2 linked regions of the Homo sapiens genome follow. The protein of the gene in region 2 interacts with the protein of the main gene of each other region in a biochemical or structural test. Each region holds a gene or a part of one and is shown on either strand. Other genes may lie near its edges.

Region 1 (3,913 bases), on a different chromosome or scaffold from region 2:
AAAAGATGAAATCTAGACAATGTTGTAATTCTATTACCTTTCAGTCGATTTTTTGAATGTAAAATACTTGCTGTTGTCTATGCATATAAAGCTGTTTTTGTTAATATTAAGAGTAAAGCAAAATCACATGAGAAACACCAAAGGGGAACACTAAGGAGCCATTACCCTAAATTAAGTATCCCTTAGATTTCAGATGAACAGAGTGGAAGTGCCTGCTTTGTCTGTGATGCATACAATTTCTGGGACCCCAATCCAGGCATTCATTATCAAAAATAAGAAAATTTCTCCCTAATTCCAAAAGCCCTCCTTGGATAATACATTTCGTAAAGACACAAAAAAAACAGACATACTTCTGAATGACTAAAGTTACAATTTTATGGTCCTTTGTACTAATTTACATCAATGGCAACAAAGAAGGAATTCTATTAAAATATAACTCATGTCAGGAACTTTCATCTATTTTATGTGCCTCTGAAAAATGGCTGATCACAATGTAAATACAAAGAAACTTTGTTGGCCGTCACCTACTTAACCAACGGTCTCTGTTCTCTCTCTAAAAGATCCTGACCAACGCCCCAGCACAGTAAAGTCTTCAGCTACTCCCCTATGTATATGTTCACTGAGTTTCACAGTTATATTCATTTGTGTTTCTCTCCTCAAGCCAGCTGTAGCTGTTACTATAATGATGTGATTTATTAAATATTACATAAACATAAAAAGACTAAGGAGAAAGAAAATCACAAAAATCTAAAATTCTGCACTCAGACCACTTTACATGTAGCTTTTTACTCCCTTATGCTTCAGTATTTGCCCTTGTGTCTTTATAAAATGTTTAGGTTCTAAAGGGGAAAAATGCATAAGGTATTTTACCTCTCTTCTGCTTCAAGAATTTCTATGCTGTCTCAAAACAACAACCAACCATCCCAAGTAGATCATCTCATCTAAAGCAGCGTAGCTCTCCTATGGCTCCCCATTTGCCTACAGGATAAAGTCCAAATTTCTTTTAAAGGCAATAAGGCTCCTGAGTTAGGGTTCTCCAGAGAGATGGAACATTATATAGACAGACATAGATATAGACATAAAGATATATACAGATATAGATATGAGAGGGGATTTATTAGGGGAACTGGCTCATGTGATTAGCAGGCTGAGACATCCCATGACAGGCTGTCTGCAAGCTGGAGACCCTGGGATGCCAGTACCATGGCTCAGTCCAAGTGCAAAGGCCTCAGAACCAGGAAAGCAGATGGTGTAACTCTCAGTCTGAAGCCAAAGGCCTGAGAACCCAGGGGGCCAATGATACAAGTCCTGAAGCCCAAAGCCTGGGGAGCCTGGAGTTCTGTTGTCCAAAGACAGGAGAGGAAGAATGTATCCCAGCTCCAGCAAATAGATCTGCCTTTTCAATGTTTTTGTTCTCTCTGGGCCCCAGCAGATTGGATGGTGCCCACACACACTGAGGGTGGATTTTCCCCACCTAATCCACTTGGATTCACACCCCAATATCCTCTGGAAACAGACACACCCCAAAATAACATTTTACCAGGTTTCTAGATGTCCTTAATCCAGTCAAGTTGACACCTAAAATTAACCATCACAGCTGTCTATTTCCTGGCCTCACTCTGACTCTCCTGCTGTCTCCCAGAACAGCTCCCACACCCTAATCTACTGGACAGCTTTTCTATGCATAGGATAGTTTGGTTTATCTTGTGCAGCTTGGCTATGCCAGTTCTGTCAGCAATGCCAGTCTCTCCTCTTCTCCCTACCTATCTGCTTTTCAAGTCACCATCACTAACTACAAAGCCTTTCCTGACTGAGCACCTCACTCCTCAATACTTTTGGCCAATAGAGTTGGCTGCTCCCTCCTGCATTACCACTGTAATCTGTATGGGTTTCCGGCAGGACGCCTGTAACATATGTTACCCTATTGTTACATGCCTGCCTCCTTAGCCTGAGGGCTCCATGAGAGAAGAAACCATGTCTTATTTATGAATTAATAGCTTTGTACATCCTAATACTAAGCAGACAACCTGGTATCAGTACCTTGTCATTACCAACCGTTCACATTCTATGTGTGCCACTGAATCGACATAAAGAGAAAATGTCCCTGGCAATTGTACAATGCTTCACCCTAAATTCAACAGAGGCCTAAGACATTTTGGACAAACGGATGAATATATGATAAATTAATGTTTAGGTTCAGACTAGCCACAGTAAGTATGGTATAGTTCTGCTTTAAACATAGATAATCAACTTGATGTCCCACTAAGGCCTGTATTAATGCAGGAAGGTTTTTTCAGAGAAAGAAAATGTTTCTAGCACAACTATTACTTTTGGCTTTTTTCAAACAAGACAAAGCTGGCAAGGGTGTTGCCACTGAAAGTATGATCCCAGAATAAGTGCTGAGATAGTGTCTTTCCTGCTGCCAGAACCACAAAGCTCAGCTTCATGGATTCACACAAATAGCAGCAAGATTGTGGGTTAAAGGGGACACATTTACTGTATTTTACAGCCAACTCTGGATTTTTTCTTCAGAGTTGGCAGTACCACAGAAATTCTAACTGAATTTCAAGTTGAATATTGGGGGGACTATATTCAACTTGAAACTTCTTGCCATAATAGAGTCAAGGATAGGAAAATATGTTAACTTACCTACTATCACAGTAATAATGCCATTTTATCCTGATTTTATATGGCAAACACTTTGTGGTTCTCCCCATAGAAGCCAACAAGTGATAAAATATTAATATTTTCCCTCCTTTAAAGCCTAGAGGACTAACAATAATGCCAAAATAAAGCTCAAAACACACCTGAGATTATCTTCTTTTGAAAGCTGAAATTGTCTCAGTATTAAAAGACTTAACTTCTCACCCATGACCAAACTGACAACAAAACCTTTTAACCTATTTTGTGAGCTACTCACTACTTCACTGAACCAAACTGCCATATTTGTAGAGCACTTAGGTAATGCTGCATAAGAGGAATATTAAGCCCCAAAGGTGCCCCCAAACACACTGCTAACCCCAAAGAGGAACATCTTGATTAATCAAGCCAAGCAAAATTAGGGATGACAACTTGGGATAAGAATGACTAAGAGTGGTCCGGGCGCGGTGGCTCACGCCTGTAATCCCAAAACTTTGGAAGGCCGAGGCGGGCGGATCACGAGGTCAGGTCAGGAGATCAAGACCATCCTGGCTAACACGGTGAAACCCCATCTCTACTAAAAAACACAAAAAATTAGCTGGGCGTTGTGGCGGGTGCCTGTAGTCCCAGCTACTCGGGAGGCTGAGGCAGAAGAATGGCGTGAACCCGGAAGGCGGAGCTTGCAATGAGCGGAGATCGCCCACTGCACTCCAGCCTCCTGACAGAGCAAGACTCCGTCTCAAAAAAAAAAAAAAAAAAAAGAATGATTAAGACTTAAGACTGTAGTCATTCATATCAGAAGTTAAGCATTGCAATGTTATGATTTAACAATCAAAGAAGATAAGCTAAGGACAATATGGCAGCTCCTCTAACTGACATGCATGGAGATAGTATTAATGCCTACCAGCTAGAGCAAAAGTGGTCAACTGGGCCCCCATTCCAGCCTAGACCTCCACATTGTTCATGTGCGTTCTATGTTGAAGCAATGTGTCCAGACATAACTGTATGAAAACAAAGTCAAGATGAAAACCTTGGATGAAAATTTTAAAAGGACTAAAAAGTAGCAAGAAGAGTAATAAAAAATGCCATGGCCTTCTACAGTTCTTCCATGAAACTGAACTTAACCCAATGCATACATACTGGTTGGGTGGTCTGTTATCGACACTTTAGGCTTGCCTTTGCAACCTAACCAGTATGTGAACAGAGGCAGTGAATTCACTGCTGATTTCAGTACTGCTTGAGAAAGTGCTCTCTGAACCAGCAGCACATTCCA
Region 2 (3,913 bases):
GCTCAGCCTGTAATCCCAGCACTTTGGGAGGCCGAGGCAGGCGGATCACGAGGTCAGCAGATCGAGACCATCCTGGTCAACATGGTGAAACCCCGTCTCTACTAAAAATAAAAAAAAATAGCTGGGCGTGGTGGCGTGCGCCTGTAATTCCAGCTACTCAGGAGCCTGAGGTAAGAGAATCACTTGAACCCAGGAGGCGGAGGCTGCAGTGAGCCGAGATCGCGCCACTGCACTCCAGCCTGGGCGACAGAGCGAGACTCTGTCTCTCACACACACACACAAATTAAAAACCCCCATGCAAGGTGGCAAATGTGGACAGTATGTTGATGTAAACATACTTTTATAATAGTTATATCACAAAAATTTGATTTTCAGTTTTAGACATTTGATGTAGTCAAGTGTTTGTGAAAGGCAGTGACAGTCACAGAAATACAGGCCTGTTTTCAAATCCATTTGGAACACATTTATTCTTGGGATAGTTTGGACAATCACAAGGCAATTCTAAGGAAGACTCCCACGACACTGCCTAAGACCAAGATTTGGGAAAACTGATTCCACTGATCACTGAAAAATTTCTTGCCCAGTAACTGTCGGTGGACTTTATCCAAGAACTGGGGGTTCAATTAGTAGGCCAAACTCCACACCTCTTACAGTAAGATACATAAAAGATAAATTAGGTCCCCTAGGCGCAAGGTCAGGTGACACTTCGGTGACTGCAGAAGGGGCGATTCCTAGAGATATGCTTCAAAGCAAGTGGGACTTAGAGATAAGCAGAGCCGAGAGGTGGATACGGCTGCTCGAGAGGGATCTACCCACAAGATAAGCCACCTCCCGCCAGCCCCCAAGGTTTGCTATTCGACACCGTTACCCAGCAGCTCCGCCACACACAGGCGGACGGGAGCTGGATACCTAAGCAAAAAACGCTGGCATTTAGGGCCAAATGCCGGAGGCAGAGGAAAAGATGGGAAAGCAAAACTCCACCTTCCTAACCGCAGGATTGATCACACAGGCTGGCAGTCTTGCAACCCCAGGATTTCAGGACACCAAGGTCTCCTTAAAAAAGAAGGGTGTGCAGAGGCGGCCCTGGCCTAGGAGGGAGCATTCTCAGGGTACAGCCGAGAAGAACCAGCTGCCCCGACTTTCTGCGCCAGAGAAGTCCTCGGAAACCTCGAGCAGCCTCCATTTTCCAGAAGGGCGCAGGGAGGCGGGAGAGCCCGCGGGTGGCCACACCCCCGGCCCGCCCCAGCGCGCGCCCCGGGAACCGCGCCCGGCCCCCGCCACCGCTTAGGCCCGCCCGCGCTCACCATGGACAGGTAAACGTAGGAGGCGTAGAGCTCCAGGTTGATCTGGCGGTTGATGGCGGCCTCTGAGTCCTGGTGGTAGTTCTGGCGCACCTGCGAGGTGGACGCGGTCGTCATGGCGGCGACTAAGGAGAGGCGGCGGCGGCGGCGGTGGCTGCGCGGCGCTGGAGCGGCGGCGGGGGCCTTGGGGCAGTCCGAGGGTGCGGTGAAGAGGTGACGGAGGGCTGGCTATGGGCGGCCGGCCGGGGTGGGGAACGAGCGCCGGGTTCCGTCCAAGCACTGTTGAAGCAGGAAACCCCGACGACTCTCGGCGAAGAACGTCTGGCCCTGCGGGTCGCTTGTGGTCTCTTATAGCCGCGTCGGCGTCAGGCCCGCCCCGGCCAATCAGCGCCGCCCGCCCCGAGCCCGCTCCTTCCGGTGGGCGCGGGACCCCGCCCCTGCTGTGGGGGAGGGGCGGCCGCTGGAGGCCCTCGCGCGCTCTGGCGGAGCTCGGGAGCGGGGACCGGTAGCCGACTGCCTCTGGGACAGCGGTGGCGTCTCTGTGCCCGTTTAGTGGAGTTGGAGGGAAGCTGCGAGGAGGCGCAGGAAGTCCACCTCAGAACCCCCCCCCCGGTCTAGGGGCGCCCGGGCGTTGGAACCGGCGGGGGAAGGGTGCGGGGGCGCATGGGGTGATCCTGATTCGGCTCCCATTTTCCCGAACGGGCACCCTGAGGCTCCTGGCCCGGGGCATGGTGTTAGAAATCATAGCTGCGGAGAAGCCCTTGTGACACCTTGCTGCAGATTGGGAAGCTGCAGATGATTGGGAAGGTGGAAGGTGGAGACGCGGTCCTTAGGTGGTCGAGCGCATTTTCTCTTCCTCAGAGTCCAGGAAGGAGCGCGATGGAGAAGTGGGGCGCACGGCGGGTTTCGGGTCCGCCCCTGCCCTTCCGACTCCTCCGACCACGTCTGCCTTTGGCTGAAAGCAAATATGGCTCCGTGTGCGGTTTCTGCAACAAAGGCTGGGCGGGCCGGGTTTCCCTAGGGATGGGGACCGCCTCCCCGGGGAGTCGTGGGGGTGAGCCACCGGGGCCTCCGAGAGAATCGCTGGTGTCGCTTCGCACCCAAGGGACACATCTCGGGTTAGAAAGGAGAAACGACGTGGATCTAAAGGCGAAGCCCATGCTGAGGACTTTTCAAAATGGCCTCTTATCGGCCCCACTCACAGGAGCTTCAGGCTTCGGTGGCCCTGTAGGACAACCCTGGGGTGTCATTGGAGAGAAGCTGACGGGGTTAATGGCGGGTGACAGGTGAAAGAGACCCCGGAGGGGTGGGGCCGGTGTGTGTGGCTAAGCTGAGTCCCAGGCACAGGGTGGATGTGAATTTATGGGTGGCAGAGCTAGAGCTAGGCCCTGCCCTTACCTAGGTCCTGGCTTCGAGGTCCACTGTTCTGTCGCGTCTTTTGACGCATCGGTGGAAGAACTGAATTTCAGGATGCTCACAAACCTGCAGCTGGAAGCTAGACTTCCAAACCTTAGTTTAAAAAAGCAACTCTACTGAAATACTAAAATAAATTGCCGACGGAATTAGGGTGATTTCTTGTTCACGGTTTCATTTAAAAATGCACCTATGTTATTTACAGGAAAAACGTTTTAGTGGTGCTAGAGCTACAAGAATAAGGTAAACAGAAGGATGCTGCTAGACCAGGAGTACCTTACCCAGTCTGGGATAGGAGGAGGTCGGGGAAGCCCTCCCTAAGCAAGACACGTGAGCTGAGTTTGAAGAAAAAGTTAAAAGGAAGGTGAAGTGCGGGAGAGAAACAGGGAAGGGAATTTGGAGCAGAGTGAACAGCATATGCAAAGGTGTGGAAATGTGGAAATGCATGGCCTGTTAAAGCTGCCTTAAGAAAATATGTTGCCTGGGGCTGGGCGCGGTGGCTCATGCCTGTAATCCCAGCATTTTGGGAGGCCGAGGCGGGCGGATCACTTGAGGTCGGAGTTGGAGATCAGCCTGGCTAACTAACATGGCTAAACCCTTCTCTACTGAAAATACAAAAATTAGCCGGGCGTGGTGGCATGCGCCTGTAATCCTAGCTATTCTGGAGGCTGAGGCAGGAGAATCGCTTGAACCTGGGAGGCGGAGGTTGCAGTGAGCCGAGATCGCGCCTTTGCACTCCAGCCTGGAAGACAAAACAAAACTCCGTCTCAAAAAAAAAAAAAAAAAAGAAAGAAAGAAAGAATGTTGGCCTGGAAAGTACAGTTTATGTTGGGGGATGCTGGTTAGGGTGGAGAATAGGGGCAAGATCGGGCAGGGTTGTGTTCCATAAAAAGAGGTTAAACTTGATCCTAGAGACAGCATAGAGACACCTCATTAGCTTTGTTTTTAGAAACCTTACACTGGGAATCTCTTAGGATAAGAGTATAGCAAAGTCACCATATATAGGATCCAAAGCTTTCCTTTATAACAGTAACCACCAGTTAGAAAATATGGGGAAAAAAGAATGGAAAAAAAAATGTTTTTCACTTACATTGACAACAAAAGCTTAAAGTACCTTGGAATAAAGTTAACAAGAAATATATAGAAAAAACTATAAATGCTTACTGCTGGACAAAAAATTCAAAAAGCCTAGCATAAAT

What was found.
Region 1: the proteins of FTH1 (region 2) and NCOA4 form a complex in vitro, tested with the Homo sapiens proteins (one study listed by BioGRID).

The regions. Positions count from the first base shown.
Region 1 is NC_000010.11:46,023,888-46,027,800, forward strand, and holds part of NCOA4 (nuclear receptor coactivator 4), read right to left. Parts: intron 3,642-3,913; exon of another isoform or gene 3,579-3,641; coding exon of another isoform or gene 3,545-3,578; intron 1-3,544. UniProt on the Homo sapiens protein: Cargo receptor for the autophagic turnover of the iron-binding ferritin complex, playing a central role in iron homeostasis. Acts as an adapter for delivery of ferritin to lysosomes and autophagic degradation of ferritin, a process named ferritinophagy.
Region 2 is NC_000011.10:61,966,008-61,969,920, forward strand, and holds the start of FTH1 (ferritin heavy chain), read right to left. Parts: upstream 1,628-3,913; 5' UTR 1,419-1,627; coding exon 1,305-1,418; exon of another isoform or gene 1,287-1,304; intron 1-1,286. UniProt on the Homo sapiens protein: Stores iron in a soluble, non-toxic, readily available form. Important for iron homeostasis. Has ferroxidase activity. Iron is taken up in the ferrous form and deposited as ferric hydroxides after oxidation. Also plays a role in delivery of iron to cells.